Linked DNA regions of Homo sapiens. The protein of the gene in region 3 purifies or fractionates together with the protein of the main gene of each other region. This does not show direct contact. Each region holds a gene or a part of one and is shown on either strand. Other genes may lie near its edges.

Region 1 (3,868 bases), on a different chromosome or scaffold from region 3:
TGCGAGCAGTCTATGCACCAAAGGTTGACATTGCCCTGTCAACAGGCAGGGCACGGGTGGCAGCCCATATAGTTCAATGGAACCCAGTGGCCGCTTGGGCTTTGGGCTTGTCTCTGGGTCCTTCCCACTGAACAGCGAAGGCGCACCAAGCCGCAGGCAAGCAAATGCCCACAAGGGGCTCGAGGCTAGACTCACCATAATGTGTTATAGGACCAGCAGGTTTGTATGCCTGCTGTGCAGTAACAGACTTGTTACACTGAGACAGCAGAGTTTGCAGCAGAGGAAGAGTTTCATGATTGCAGGGCACCGAGTGAGAAGATGGGAGGAGATCCTCAAATCCATCTCCTTGAGGAGTTCTGGGCTGGGCTTTTTTGGTTTTGTTTGTTTGTTTGTTTTTGAGATGGAGTTTTGCTCTTGTTGCCCAGGCTGCAGTGCAATGGCGCTGTCTCGGCTCATCGCAACCTCCGCCTCCCAGATTCAAGTGATTCTCCTGCCTCACCCTCCCAAGTAGCTGGGATTACCAGTATGCAGCAACACGCCCGGCTAATTTTGTATTTGTAATAGAGACGGGGTTTCTTCATGTTGGTCAGGCTGGTCTCAAATTCCTGCCCTCAGGTGATCTGCCCACCTTGGCCTCCCAAAGTGCTGGGATTACAGGCATGAGCCACTGTGCCCGGCCTGGGCTGGGGCTTTTAAGGGGACTGGAGGGTGAGGGGCTGGAAAATTGGGAGAGTTGATTGGTGGGGCAAGGGGGATGTAATCATCAGGGTGTACAAACTGCACTCTTGGTTTAGTCAGCTCCTCGTGGGGTCCTTCGGAGCAGCTCAGTCAGTAGCTCCATCAGTATACAGGACCCAAAGGAATATCTCAAAGGGAAAACAGCATTTCCTAAGGTTCAAGTTGTGATCTACGGAGCAGTTAGGGGAACTACAATCTTGTGACAGGGTCTACATGCTTCTGAGGCAATGAGACACCAAGCAGCTACGAGGAAGCAGTCAGAGAGCACGCCGACCTAGTGACTGATGCTGATGTGCTGCGAGCTGGGTTCATTTTCATTTCTCCCCTCCCCCTGCCCTCATTAATTTTGTAAAGTTTATAGGGAACATTTCACCCACTCTGCTGTGGATCCCTGTCACTTACGGAGTCTGTCATCTTGGCTGTATGGGCTGTGGCCTCTGCGGTGCCCATTCTCAGGAGGTGTGAGACCCATGAGGACCGGAGGTGGACAAGGCTAGAGACCACACCCCCCCGCTCCATCCAATCATGTTTTCCTGGGTGCTTGGTTTCTATGCAGGCTGCATGTCCTTAGTCCCTGCATGGGAACAGCTCCTGTGGTGAGCAGGCCCCTGAGGAAGGCCTTGAGCGGGAATGGAGCCTAGGCTTAGGCTGCCTGGTAAGAGCTGGAGGGAACCAGCCGAGGCTTGTGCTACTTTTTTTTCCAGAATGAAATACGTGACTGATGTTGGTGTCCTGCAGCGCCACGTTTCCCGCCACAACCACCGGAACGAGGATGAGGAGAACACACTCTCCGTGGACTGCACACGGATCTCCTTTGAGTATGAGTATCCTTGTGGCCCAGCCTGAGGGGCACAGGCAGCACCCCTGCTCAGCAGGCCTTGTTTGCTTTGTCACCCTCTGTGGGTTCTGGCCACATCCCCAGGAGGGAAAGCAGGTGGGGCAGGAAGTTTTGGGGGAAGGGGCTGTGGTGTGCTACCCCAGCTCATCTGTGTGGCTTTGGCTTCTAAATGCCAGAGCTGAGTTTGGAAGTATCACCCTTCTCCAGCACATCCCTGTAAAGTGCTTATTGTGGGCCTGGCTCTGGACATGGTAGCAGTGCGGGCAGTGGTTCACGCAGTCAGGAAAGAAGGCAGCTGCCATGTAATCACACAGCGTGACGTGTCTTTTGAGAAGCACATGGGACATTGGTGGAGTGCTCAGAAAAGACCATGGGGAGACCACATCTCACACAGTCTCAGCCACACTCAGTGTGGCAGCTGCTGTACTGAGCACAGGAGGGGCTGGGGGACTGGCTGGGGTCAGGTGTCAGGAGGCCAGAGCAAGCCTTGTGAGCCAAGGGCAGCGGGAGGCTGTGGAGTGACCAGAGTTTGAGTCAGGGTTTTTAAAAGGTCCCTTGGCTGCCCAGTAGAGGTAGGTTGGGGGCAAGGAGATGGTCACTGCTTTCCAAGGCCACACAATAGTGGCTTGGCCCAAACTGCAGCAGTGGCTGTAAGCAGTCAGATAGCATGATGTCAGGGACGGAGCTGCCCTGTCTCTGCACTGTGATGGCTGGGAAGGAGGAAGAGTGAGGGTGGACACGTCAGTAGTCAGGTGGCCATCGGAGCCTGGGGAGCGGGGTGGAGCTGGCTGAACTCCTGGGGAGGGGAGCCGCTGTGCACTGGAGCTGGTCCCATCATGTGCGTGGCAGGGTGGGCTCACTTACCCAGGGACCATGGGAGTGTGTGACTGAGACAGGAGGGAGGGAGTCAGGGAGCTGAGGATGCTGGGGCTTGAGGAAGCTGCTGGAGTGTGGGCAGGGAGCATGGTGGTCTGAAGGCCTGGGAGTTCCCAGGAGTTGGGAGGGGCAGTGGTGGGAACTGAGCATGCCGAGGAAGCAGGCAGGACCAGGCTCTCGTCCTGTAGAGGGGAAATCCACCGTGGGGGACAGTCCACACTCACAACTGCGCTCACGGTGCCAGGGGCAGTGATGGATATGTTTAAGAAAAGGGCTGAGGAGGTCGGGCGCTGTGGCTCACGCCTGTAATCCCAGCACTCTGGGAGGCCAAGGCAAGTGGATCATGAGGTCAGGAGATCGAGACCATCCTGGCTAACACGGTGAAACCTCGTTTCTACGAAAAATACAAAAAATCAGCCAGGCATGGTGGCGGGTGCCTATAGTCCCAGCTATTCGGGAGGCTGAGGCAGGAGAATGGCGTGAATCCAGAAGGTGGAGCTTGCAGCGAGCCGAGATCGTGCCACTGCACTCCAGCCTGGGCGACAGAGCGAGACTCCGTCTCAAAAAAAAAAAACGAAAAAAGGGCTGAGGATGGGGGCGCTTCGTGGATGGGGTCCCAGTGGAGGGCTCTCCGGAGGAATGGGTTGTAGGGAGGGCTGGGCTAGGTGGAGCAGGAGGTGCAGGACGACAAGCTGGTGACGCCCAGCCTCCTACGTCATGTGTGGCCATGACTGCTCCATGTGACCACAGCACCTGGACTTTGCAGACCCCTGTGCTCCAGATTCTCTGCCTGTCAGACGGATGGTGGTCTATGCCTGTCACTTCACAGGCTCTCTGTATGGGTCAGCTTAAGCTAAGAAGGTCAAAGGGCTCCAGGTCACTCTTGGGATACCTGGTTTTGCAGGCAGGCCTGGTGAGAAAGGGCCCCGCCATCAGAGTGGCCCACCTGCTGGAGTTACGAGAGTGCTCAGGGCGGCCAGTGGGTGCTTGCATGCTCCTTGACTGCAGGCCCAGCCTCCGCCTGGTGCTCTACCAGCACTGGTCCCTCCATGACAGCCTGTGCAACACCAGCTATACCGCAGCCAGGTTCAAGCTGTGGTCTGTGCATGGACAGAAGCGGCTCCAGGAGTTCCTTGCAGACATGGGGTGAGTGACTGCCTGGGCCTCTGCAGTGCCAGCCCTGGCCACCCCCAAGGGAAAAGCCCCTCTGCTTTGTTGTGACCAACTTAGTTATAAAATGCAGCCTGTTCTGCCATAAGCTCCTTGCCCTAGATCCCAGAATATCTTCTGAATGCTGGTGCGGGGACATCCTCGCTTGCCCTTGGTTTGGGTTTCTTTCCACCCTGTCGGTGTGTGGTGACCTCACTCATGTGGCTTGGGCTTGCTCTTTCCAGTCTTCCCCTGAAGCAGGTGAAG
Region 2 (3,868 bases), on a different chromosome or scaffold from region 3:
TCCTGCAATTTTGTATTGTTTGAACTGGAAGCCTGTTTACTTCGACAGTTATTATTCAAGGAAATAATTTGGAATTCTGATTATCTCTGCAAACATTTTATATGTTAATGTAGTTCTGTGAAATACATATGTGTTATGTGTGTTTGATAGCTCACCTCTAAAGTTTTGCATTGTTTTTTAAATTTCTTTTGAACTTTTGTAGGCATAGTCTTTTTCTCTCAGTGTTATGATTGTGGAAACCTGTCATCAGTTATTTCTTTTTTTGTTGTTTGTTTGTTTTTTTTTTTTAATGAGATGGAGTCTCACTCTGTCACCCAGGCTGGAGTGCAGTGGTGCGATCTCGGTCCACTGCAACCTCCATCTCCTGGGTTCAAGCAATTCTCCTGCCTCAGCCTCCTGAGTAGTTGGGATTACAGGCGCACACCACCACTCCGGCTAATTTTTGTATTTTTAGTAGAGGTGGGGTTTCACCATGTTGGTCAGGCTGGTTTTGAACTCCTGACCTCAGGTAATCCGCCCGCCTTGGCCTCCCAAAGTGCTAGGATTACAGACGTGAACCACTATGCCTGGCCCAGTGATGTCTTTAAATTTTATTTATTATTGTTATATTTTCTGTCACCCAGGCTGGAGTGTAGTCCTGTGATCTCAGCTCACTGCCACCTTTGCCTCCCAAGTTCAAGCAATTCTCCTGCCCCACCCTCTGGAGTAGATGGGATTACAAGCACCTGCCACCATGCCTGGCTAATTTTCGTATTTGTAGTAGAGATGGATTTTACCATGTTGGCTAGGCTGGCCTCGAACTCCTGACCTCAGGTGATCTACTCGCCTCCCAAAGTGCTGGGATTACAGGCGTGAGCCACTGCACCTGGCCAGTTATTTCTAGTGTTACCCAGAATTAAGAACAAATGAAATACAGTTTTAATTGTAGTTCTTTTTCAGAACCATGTAACAGTAACATCTTAATTTCATAATTTAATCATTTCTTTCCAATCCATGAATTTCATGTTATCATTTTGAACACTGGTTGCCAATTGCGTATGATTATTGTCCTTTACTTCTGACTGCTCAGATCTCAGATCTTGTGGCTCACATTTCTCTCTTTAGCTTATTCTGCTCTTTTTTTTTTTTTTTTTTTTGAGATGGAGTCTCTCTCTGTCGCCCAGGCTGGAGTGCAGTGGCGTTATCTCGGCTCACTGCAAGCTCTGCCTCCCGGGTTCATGCCATTCTCCTGCCTCAGCCTCCCAAGTAGCTGGGACTACAGGTGTCTGCCACCACGCCCGGCTGATTTTCTGTATTTTTAGTAGAGACGGGGTTTCACCATGTTAGCTAGGATGGTCTCGATCTCCTGACCTTGTGATCCTCCCACCTCGGCCTCCCAAAGTGCTGGGATTACAGGTGTGAGCTACTGCGCCCGGCCCCAGCTTATTCTGCTCTTAACTCTGGACTGTAAGCAGGTTTCAAACACACTAAACTTAAACTTATCATCTATCTGCATCCTGTCTTCCAGACCATTCTTTGTTTTTGTTTTGTTTTGTTTTGTTTGAGACGGAGTGTTGCTCTGTCACCAGGCTGGAGTGCAGTGGTGCAATCTCAGCTCACTGCCACCTCTGCCTCCCAGGTTCAAGTGATTCTCCTGCCTCAGCCTCCCAAGTAACTAGGACTATAGGCACCTGCCACCATGCCCGGCTAAGTTTTGTATTTTTAGTAGAGACGGAGTTTCACCAAATTAGCCAGGTTGGTCTTGAACTCCTGACCTTGTGGTCTGCCCACCTCAGCCTACTGAAGTGCTGGGATTACAGGTGTGAGCCACCATGCCTGACCTGGCTAACTTTTTTCTTAAGAGATGGGATATTACTGTATTGCCCAGTTTGGTCTCAAACTCCTAGATTTAACTGATCACTTCTCCTTGGCCTCCCAAAGTGTTGGAATTACAGGTGTGAGTCATTGCACCTGGCCTAAAACATTCTGATTTACTGTAACTGATAGTAACAGTAGTGTCTTTTTTTTTTTTTTTTTTTTTTTTTTGAGATGGAGTCTCGCTCTGTTGCCCAGGCTGGAGCACAGTGACCCGATCTCGGCTCACCGCAAGCTCCGTCTTCCGGGTTCATGCCATTCTTCTGCTTCAACCTCCCAAGTAGCTGGGACTACAGGCACCCGCCACCATGCCCGGCTAATTTTTTTGTATTTTTTGTAGAGACAGGGTTTCACCGTGTTAGCCAGGATGGTCTTGATCTCCTGACCTCGTGATCCTCCCACCTCGGCCTCCCAAAGTGCTAAGATTACAGGCGTAAGGCACCACGCCTGGCCTAACAGTAGTGTCTTAACCTAACATTTCCTCATGTTAGGGACCTACCTTTCAAAATGGTGCATTATTGGTGAGTTTTACCATCACAGGCCTTCAGTATTATGTGAAGCATCATAGTGCAAAAGTGAAGCAAGGAGCAGGATTGTTTGCAAATGACCTGGGTCTTCATTTGAGTTGCTTCAAGAAGGAGCCATCTGGTACTGTCCTTCCATTCCTTTCTCCCAACAGGATTATCTGCCTTCAAGTTTTGCTTATCTTTAAACTAGTGGCTTCCTTCTCACCACTGCAGGCATGTTGTTTTCTGTAGATGCTTGGTAGGTGGAGCTTCTAGCTGTCACCAAAATTTAGAATGCTTAGTGCCAGGCAGTCTGTTTGTTCCTCACTGATAAAGGTTCTTGTACTTTAAGGGATAACAAACAGGGTAATACTTAAAGATTAGCTTCATTAGAGGACATGTAGCCAAGCTTGGTGGTGTGCACCTGTGGTCCCAGCTATTCAGGAGGTTCAGGTAGGAGGATCACTTGAGCCTGGGAGGTCGAGGCTGCAGTGATCATGCCCCTGCACTCCAGCCTGGGCAACAAAGCAAGACCCTGTCTCAAATAAATAAGGAGAATTATAGTGAGTTATACTAAGCAGGCAAGTTTTGTTTTGTTTTACAAAGCAGCTTCTACCATAGTGAAAATAGCCCTTCCAGAGGACCGTGTCTGTTTATCCTGCACTGTAATAGGCTGTATCTAGAGTGTGTAGGTCATTGGAAGACCTGCACATCTCAAGAACTTAAATTTTCTTGGTCCCTCTTTTTTTGGCTGATGAAGTTTAGAACTTCAGAGTAGGAATATGAGCTGATAGTTGATTATATGACCAGAATGTTGACATTCACCAGAGGTCATCAAGAAGAGCGGGATTCTGATATGAGATGTGCCCAATCGTTGCCTACAAATCAACTGTGTTGTGATTCTGTGGAAACTTCCCTACTTACCCTGTTGATGTTAACTTGTAACTTTTTAAGCATTCTTCTGCCTTGGAGAAGGGGATCTTTAGTATACTTGGCATAAGTGAAAATCTAGGAAAGATGGTATCTGGGTTGTTTTCTGTATTCAAAGGACATTGCAGAATATATACCACTTAACGGAATAATTAGATGAGCTTTAGCAACTACTTATTAAAAGAGGTGAATATTTAGTGCATGGCACCCAAAGGAGGAAAGAACTGAAGAGATTTTCATTGTACAAAGAGCAGAAACAGAATCTGCTCAAAAGAACTGTAGAAGCCGGTTGAAAAAATGTTAAACAATGAGTAATTGTGTAAAAACTTGAGAGTATATGTTTGTCTTTGTGACACATGAAACGTTTCAATTTTAAGCTTACATGGGATTTTTAAGTGAGAGGAAGAAACAGATCCTGGTATACATAGGTGGGGAAACTTACAGATATGAAAACATTTTGATAAAAAGCTAACTTGATTGGTACAGAGCTAAAAAGGTGTGTAAAACAGGCTTTTTAAAAAACTTACATTTAGGTTATAATTTTTGCCTAGATTAATATTTGGGTCTCCTCTCCCCTA
Region 3 (4,238 bases):
AACTGCCTTAGGGCTGGAGGTAGGACCTGCGGGCAGCAATACTGCTTTGTAAAGCATTGAGATGTTTATGTGTATGCATATCTAAAAGCACAGCACTTAATCCTTTACATTGTCTATGATGCAAAGACCTTTGTTCACGTGTTTGTCTGCTGACCCTCTCCCCACAATTGTCTTGTGACCCTGACACATCCCCCTCTCGAGAAACACCCACAAATGATCAATAAATACTAAGGGAACTCAGAGGCTGGCGGGATCCTCCATATGCTGAACGCTGGTTCCCCGGGTCCCCTTATTTCTTTCTCTATACTTTGTCTCTGTGTCTTTTTCTTTTCCAAATCTCTCGTCCCACCTTACGAGAAACACCCACAGGTGTGTAGGGGCAACCCACCCCTACAGAGATGCTCTAAGATACGTAATGGAAGTAGAGTAAGTATTATGAAACAGATGATGGTGCCCCACTTACCTGAAACACTCAACCCAGTAACAACCAAGACAAGGAGAATAATCCCAGCACAGCTAAGTTTCAGGGCAAATTGATGCCAAGGTGAACCCTGACAGACATCTGAAAAGTTAAAAAGAAAAACACAAAAACAAACAAACAAACGAAACAAAAAACCTTGGTTAACTCAGTGGAGTACATCTGGCACAAAAATGTACTTGGGATAACATAGGGACAATTAGATTCAGCTTGGGGGATGGGGGCAGGGAACAACCTCTATCCATCATTCTAAAAGTAGAGTCCTGCAAGATGGGTTCTCAGATCCAACAGAGTTTGCTCATTGATAAAATATGAACGCTTATGCATGTGTGTATACAAAGGATTGGTGTAAGAACCAAATGAGATAGATAGAAAGATGTTTTGAAAATTGCCAAGTGCTATACAAAAATTAAGTGCATGTCTTAATGTATGAAGTAAGTCAAAGCATTTTGTCCAAGAAGGAAGACCTTCATTTAGTCAAGATATTTTTTGAGGCTCTCTCTATTTTGTGCCAAGTACCATGTTAGGTGCTGGTGGTATACAGAAATTCTATTCTTGGACATGGAATCCTCTGCTTTGCTGTTGTCTAGAACAATCATCTCCAAGTTGGGTCTAAGCCAACTTGGGATCCCAAGCCATCAAGGGATAAGGTTTTGTGACTGCATACCTTTTTCAATATTATCACTAGTATAACATAACATGCGCTTATGTCTACAACATCGCATAGTCTAAACCAAGTGTCAGATATCTCTGCTTTTCTCTGTAATCACATCAATTACTATATAATGAATCTCCCATGTTCTTCAAAAGTTATGATTATATTGATGAAATGTTATAAATTAATCGCAACTTTATCAATGTATTTTGCTCTGTATCTTTGAAAACATGAATTAATAGAAAAAAAATAAAGAGAGATTTATAAAAATATTTTGGAGAAACACTGGGATATAGCTTCCAAAATTAAATCAACTCTGATAAGGAATTATTCTGGTAGTATATTGCTCAGTTACACTGCTAGAAGTTGTGCCTAAATAGCTCCCCTATCTCTGATTTAATTGTAAGTCTCCCTCTGCTCTCATTTGGTTTTTAACATATTAGATATATTATAATTATAAATTACTTTATAAATTCTATTATTAGAGCTAGGAGCTTTTATGAATAAAGGCTTTCTAATTTATCTGAAGCTATTGATTTATTTGTATTGTCTATTCCTTTTTATTTTTTCTAATATTATTCCATGTAAGTGATTACTTGCTATGAGTTACATGTTAAAAAATTTAGCATCAGATATACTATAATATTATCCTTTAGTCTCTTTATATGTTTCAGAACGGCCATGAAGCCATTTCTACTTTTAATGGTACAGTATCCTTGAGGATTAAGTTGTGCAGTCCAGTTTGCAGACCTGATAATCTCTCACATTAGGATGCTCACACTGATATAAGTGAATCAGCTCTCTCTAAAACGGCCCTGAGGAGATAGAATTTAGTAGCGTTAGATGTGATCAAAGATTATGGGAGGAACCATAATACACTGGGGTCAGGGTTGTAACATATGGATTATCGTCTGGTACTATTTAGGACATGCTGTATCAGTGGAGGGGGGCAGGGAGGAGTAGATACCTAGAGGAGACTCCAAGGCCCCAGGGATATATCTGAATGTGAGGAAACCAAGCTTGGTAATATTGGCCTAGAACTTCTAATGAGAGCTGGTGTGATACAAGAATGTCTACATGCAGTCAATAAGCCCAAGACAGCACTGGCATGGCTTTCCTTCCAGTTTTATATATGTACGTTATTTCACCTTTCTGTCTCTTCTCTTCCCCACCGTTTTCTTCCTTGAAACTCTAAGTTTGTTTGTCTAGTGGAGAAAGCTCTGTATAGTCACTATTTTAAGTGTTAACTTAATTCTATTTATTTATTTATTTATTTTTGAGACGGAGTTTCACTCTTGTTGCCCAGGCTCATGGTGCAATCTCAGCTCACCGCAACCTCCGCCTCCCAGGTTCAAGCAATTCTCTTGCCTCAACCTCCCGAGTAGCTGGGATTACAGGCATGCGCCACCATGCCCGGCTAATTTTGTATTTTTTTTTTTTTTTTTTAGTAGAGACGGGTTTCTCCATGTTGGTCAGGCTGGTCTCGAACTCCCAACCTCAGGTGATCCACCCGCCTCAGCCTCCCAAAGTGCTGGGATTACATACGTGAGCCACCGCACCCAGCCTAATTCTATTACTAACATGAATTTAGTAATTTTCATTACTAAAGGCTAACATTGATTAAGAACAGTCTTTCCGATCTAGCAAATCTGAATGTGAACATGTTATTTTGGAAAATACGTTCAACCTTCATAACCCACAGATTTCCTCATCTGTGAAATGTGGAATATTATCTATGTCATAATATTTTGGAGAGGATTATATGAAACAATTCTTCTAAATGCTGGGCACAGTGTCTGGCACATGGTAACTGTTCAATGAACAGCAGTTCTTTTTTTCTAAAAGTTGTTTTTTTTTTTTAACTATAGGTAAAAGGCAACTTGGTGACTTTTAAAAATCGTTATTCATTCATGCTAAAATGTAAGGAGTTGAGTGGAGTGTACTGTGTCTGGGAGGAATGTACTCCTGTACTGTGTTTCTGTGGCACCACGTGACATTAGAATTAATGAAGTTACAATGAATCACTACAGGGGTCCGGCGGACGTTAGCTATCTGGAAATACCTACCTATGGCTGTTCTCCATTTGAGTTTAAAAAGTATGTGAAATCATCTCATTTCATTATTCTAAACCTTCCAATGGCTTTTCATCAGGCAAATCTGAGTCTGTAGAATGGCTCATATGTCCCTATTTAAGCTGGCGCCCACTTCTGTTGGATGTTATCACTCACATCTCTCTGGTTTTGTTGACTGCCTTAGACACAATCACCATGCTACAGAGTGACCATAGCCTCAACAGTTTAGCCAGAGTCCAATAGTGGTTTCACATTTTGCCCTCACCCCATCTGGCCTCCATACGCTCACTCTCCACGCAGATGCCTCCTACAATACCACAGGCGTGTTTTCATTTCGATGTGTTTGCACTTGTTGGTCACCTTCCTAGAAGGCTTCTCTCTCAGGGGCTTATGTCTTTGTCCCTCACTTCTGTCAGGTTTTGACTCAATGTCATCTTCTCAGGGAGGCCTTCCTTGATTATTCTGTTTGATATGCTACCCTCCCCGAAAGTTAAATCCTATATTCAAATCTTTCTCAATAACATTAACACCGTCTCATCTTTTATACTGACTTAGTTATTTGTTTATTTTATTGATGGTGTGCCTCCATTTTTTTAATTTTTATTTTTTATTATACTTTAAGTTCTAGGGTACATGGGCACAATGTGCAGGTTTGTTACATATGTATACATGTGCCATGTTGGTTTGTTGCACCCGTTAACTCGTCATTTACATTAGGTATTTCTCCTAGTGCTATCCCTTCTCCCTACCCCCACCCCACAACAGGCCCTGGTGTGTGATGTTCCCTGCCCTGTGTCCATGTGTTCTCATTGTTCAATTCCCACTATGAGTGAGAATATGCGGTGTTTGGCTTTCTGTCCTTGTGATAGTTTGCTCAGAATGATGGTTTCCAGCCTCATCCATGTCCCTACAAAGGACATGAAATCATCCTTTTTTATGGCTGCACAGTATTCCATGGTGTATATGTGCCACATTTTCTCAATCCAGTCTATCAATGATGGACATTTGGGTTGGTTCCAAGTCTTTGCTATTG
Region 4 (3,868 bases), on a different chromosome or scaffold from region 3:
AGGGATGGGAGAGGAGGCTGTCACTGCCAAGGCTGGTGCAGGGTTCACACCATGCCCTTTTGACATCTGGGGCTGGGTAATTCTTGTCCTCACTTCTTCAGAAGGGTACATGAGAGTCTATCAGAAGCACCACTCTATTCTCCAAGCCTGAAAGATGAGGGTAAATTCACTACCAGTTTCCCAGCTAACATGCATTAACGAAACACCACAGGGCTGAGCTATAACAAACATGAACTGTTCACCATTGTGGAAGCAATGATTTAACCCAACTACTGAAGAAGCACCTCTGCACCTTAAAATGGGGACAACAGTGCACAATACGAGCAAAGCCACACTCATTGGAACTGAATGGGAGAAAGGTAAATCTGAAGTGAAATAACCAAATTTAAATATTTAAGAAATTCATGGCCGGGCACGGTGGCTCACACCTGTAATCCCACACTTTGGGAGGCCGAGGCAGGTGATCACCTGAGGTCAGCAGTTTGAGACCAGCCTGGCCAACATGGTGAAACCCCATCTCTACTAAAAATACAAAAATTAGCCGAGCACGGCAGCGGGCGCCTGTAATCCCAGCTACTCGGGAGGCTGAGGCAGGAGATCACTTGAACCCAGGAGGCGGAGGTTGCAGTGAGCCAAAATTGCGCCACTGCACTCCAGCTGGGCCACAAGAGTGAAACTCCATCTCAAAAAAAAAAAAAAAGAAATTCACTAAAAAATTACACAAAGCCTCTGTGGATACTGATAGAAGTTCATATCCTAAAGACAAATGGATCTTTATGAATAGGCAAAAAGACAACAGAAATAAGATACTCAGATGAACTGATCTACAAAATACTTATTTCGAATTTTATTAGAGTGGATCTTATTAGACTGGATCAGATTCCTTGGGCTTGACAACCTTTTAAGTGAGCCAGGAGTTCTAAAATTACTACTGAGCTATTTAGCCAACTATAAAGATCAGCCTCAAATAGCGAAAGAAGTCCTCACAGCTCTACTGCACTTCCATATATGAGCCCAAGAGATTTTGTTTTTTTTTCAGGAAGTATCCAACTAGTTTGTAACAATGGAAAAACAGAAAACATGTAGGGAGTAATGGATTTACAAAATAGCACAATGGACTAAAAATTACGGTTAGTGTAGAACAGGATTTCTCAACCTTGCCACAACTGACATTTTATGCTGGATAATTCTTTGCTGTGGAGGTTATAGTATGTTTAGCTACATTTCTGGTATCTACCCACTAAATGCCAGCATCACCCTCCTAGTTATGACAACCAAAAATGTCTCCAGACATTGTCAAGTCTCCTGGGGGAAAAGCTCCCCATTGAGAACCACTGATGTAGAAATAAATGCTCTCATGGGGCATATCTTAAATTTTAAAAAGAGTTTTCCCCGCCACATAGAGAAAAAACTTTTAAATAAAGTCTAAGTAACCACAAGTGCTTGAGGAGTCTGTTCTCAAATAAATGCTCCCAATGTAACAAGTGAATTATTCTATCCATTTATAAAGGAAAATTTGTGTCTATCCGCTGTTACTAAGGCTGAGACTGCCCTGGATGGTCTTTAAAGGAAGCCCAAAATTAGCCAGAACGACTATCCACACTTTAAACTGAATAAAGCATATTTGTGGCTGGGCGTGGTGGCTCATGCCTGTCAATCTAAGCACTTTGGGAGGCTGAGGCAGGTGCATCACCTGAGGTCAGGAGTTCAAGACCAGCATGGCCAACATGATGAAACCCTGTCTCTACTAAAAATACAAAAATTAGCCAGGCGTGGTAGTGGGCAACTGTAATCCCAGCTACTCAGGAGGCTGAGGCACAAGAATCACTTGAACCCGGGAAGTGGAGGTTGCTGTGAGCTAAGATCTTGCCACTGCACTCCAGCCACGGCGACAGAGTGAGACTCCATCTTAAAAAAATAAAAATAAATAAAGCCATGTTTGCAGGCGGGGTGGAAGGTGAGTTAGGGAAGGATAGACTGGAATACAAAAGCTAAAGAAAAAATATCAGCATAAACTTTATAGATATACTATTCTGGTACTATTTATTACATTTTGTTCCAATACATTCATTTATCAAATCATCTCAAACCAAATTAGTTAAGAAACTAAAGTTGAGCCATACATACTTATTCTGTAACCATACTATGCTAGAATGTTTAATGTCCCCCTAAAAAGTCATGTCCATCCAGAACCTCAGAATGTGACTTTTACTGGAAATAGGGTCTCTGCAAGTTATTAGTTAAGATAAGGTCATACTGGATTAGGTGGGCCCTACCTAATCCAGTGACTTGCGTCCTTAGGAAAACATAATACACTGACACAGAGACAACTACAGGGGAGAAGCATGAATGTGAGGCAGAGACTGGAGTGGTATATCTACAAGTGAAGGAATGCCAAGGATTGCTGGCAACCACCACAAGCTAGAGAGAGGCAAGGAGGGATCTTCTACAGCCTTCAGAGAGAACACGACCCTGCTGACAACTTGATTTTGGACTTCCAGCCTCTAGAATTTTGAATGACTTAAGTTTCTGCTGTTCTAAGCCACCTTGTTTGTGGTACTTTGTTATGGCAGTTCTAAGAAGTTAATATGGGCATTGAGTAAATGAAGGGTATTTTGGGCATATAATTCCAATAGAGTGCTAACATATTGCAGTAATATACTGGTTCAATAACTGAAAAATTGTTGTAGTGCCTGTAGACTAATTTTTGTAAAGTCTTATTTCAAAAATGCCATTTTGTTATAAAGCACAGCGGGATACTAGCTCTGCAAAAATTAACACAATAAATTGGTATCACATAATCTTAACCTCACGACTTTATTGCATTTTCTTCTTTAAATAGCACAAAGAAGATTCAGGATGTTATACATTCAGTCCTCACTTAACATCACTGATAGGTTCTTGGAAACTGCCACTTTAAGTGAAATGGTGTATAACAAAACTATTTTTTTCTCATTAACATTGTAACGCTGAACGAAATGAGGGCCTACTGTATGTCATTTCGCTTAAAAGTGCAATTTCCTCTTTTTAAAAAATTTTTTGCTGTTCAAGAGTTTGATAACATATAGGCCGGGCTCACACCTGTAATCCCAACACTTTGGGGGGCCGAGGCAGTTGGATCATTTGAGGTCAGGAGTTCAAGACCAGCTTGGGCAACATGGAAACCCTGTCGCTACTGAAAATACAAAAATTAGCCGGGCGTGGTGGTGCACGTCTGTAGTCCCAGCTACTCAGGAGGCTGAGGCACAAGAATCGCTTTAACCCAGGAGGCAGAGGTTGCAGTAAGTCGAGATCACGCCACTGCACTCAAGCCTGGGTGAAGGAGTGACACTGTCTCAAAAAATACATATACATATAATATTATTTATATATATATATTTATGTTATATATAATATATATTTATATATATTATATATTACATATATATTACATATAATATATAATACATATTACATATATATTACATATAATATATAATACATATTACATATATTATATTATATATATATTTGTATGAGAGAGAGAGAGATAACATTGCAATTTCAAAGAAGCCATCAATGATGTTAAGTGAAGGTTCACTATATTTGTTGTCAAAAGGTATGTCTATTCTTTTTTCTCAGGCAAAAGCAACAGTATTCTGAAAAGGAAGTCACTTAATGAGAAATCGAGACAATAAGCTGTAAGAAGCATAGACATTCCTTCCAATGATACCCATTTCTTCCAAAATTACCAGTCATTTCTTACCTATATTATCCTTTTCTTTGCAAGAAATTGAATAGCAGCAAATTTCTCTATCCTGAATAGCAGACAGATTCCTATGAGAAGAATTAAAAGGATAAGTCTGTGCTTAGAACAGCTGTCATACTT

The links. The genes of interacting proteins can lie anywhere in the genome.
Region 1: the proteins of KLRB1 (region 3) and CDC45 purify together in Homo sapiens (affinity purification with mass spectrometry; one large-scale study listed by BioGRID and IntAct). This does not show direct contact.
Region 2: the proteins of KLRB1 (region 3) and ARL5B purify together in Homo sapiens (affinity purification with mass spectrometry; one large-scale study listed by BioGRID and IntAct). This does not show direct contact.
Region 4: the proteins of KLRB1 (region 3) and ARL8B purify together in Homo sapiens (affinity purification with mass spectrometry; one large-scale study listed by BioGRID and IntAct). This does not show direct contact.

What each region holds. Positions count from the first base shown.
Region 1 is NC_000022.11:19,503,920-19,507,787, forward strand, and holds part of CDC45 (cell division control protein 45 homolog), read left to right. Parts: intron 1-1,442; coding exon 1,443-1,562; intron 1,563-3,466; coding exon 3,467-3,598; intron 3,599-3,846; coding exon 3,847-3,868. UniProt on the Homo sapiens protein: Required for initiation of chromosomal DNA replication. Core component of CDC45-MCM-GINS (CMG) helicase, the molecular machine that unwinds template DNA during replication, and around which the replisome is built.
Region 2 is NC_000010.11:18,662,431-18,666,298, forward strand, and holds part of ARL5B (ADP-ribosylation factor-like protein 5B), read left to right. Parts: intron 1-3,868.
Region 3 is NC_000012.12:9,601,038-9,605,275, forward strand, and holds part of KLRB1 (killer cell lectin-like receptor subfamily B member 1), read right to left. Parts: intron 563-4,238; coding exon 464-562; intron 1-463.
Region 4 is NC_000003.12:5,174,292-5,178,159, reverse strand, and holds part of ARL8B (ADP-ribosylation factor-like protein 8B), read right to left. Parts: intron 3,817-3,868; coding exon 3,746-3,816; intron 1-3,745. UniProt on the Homo sapiens protein: Small GTPase which cycles between active GTP-bound and inactive GDP-bound states.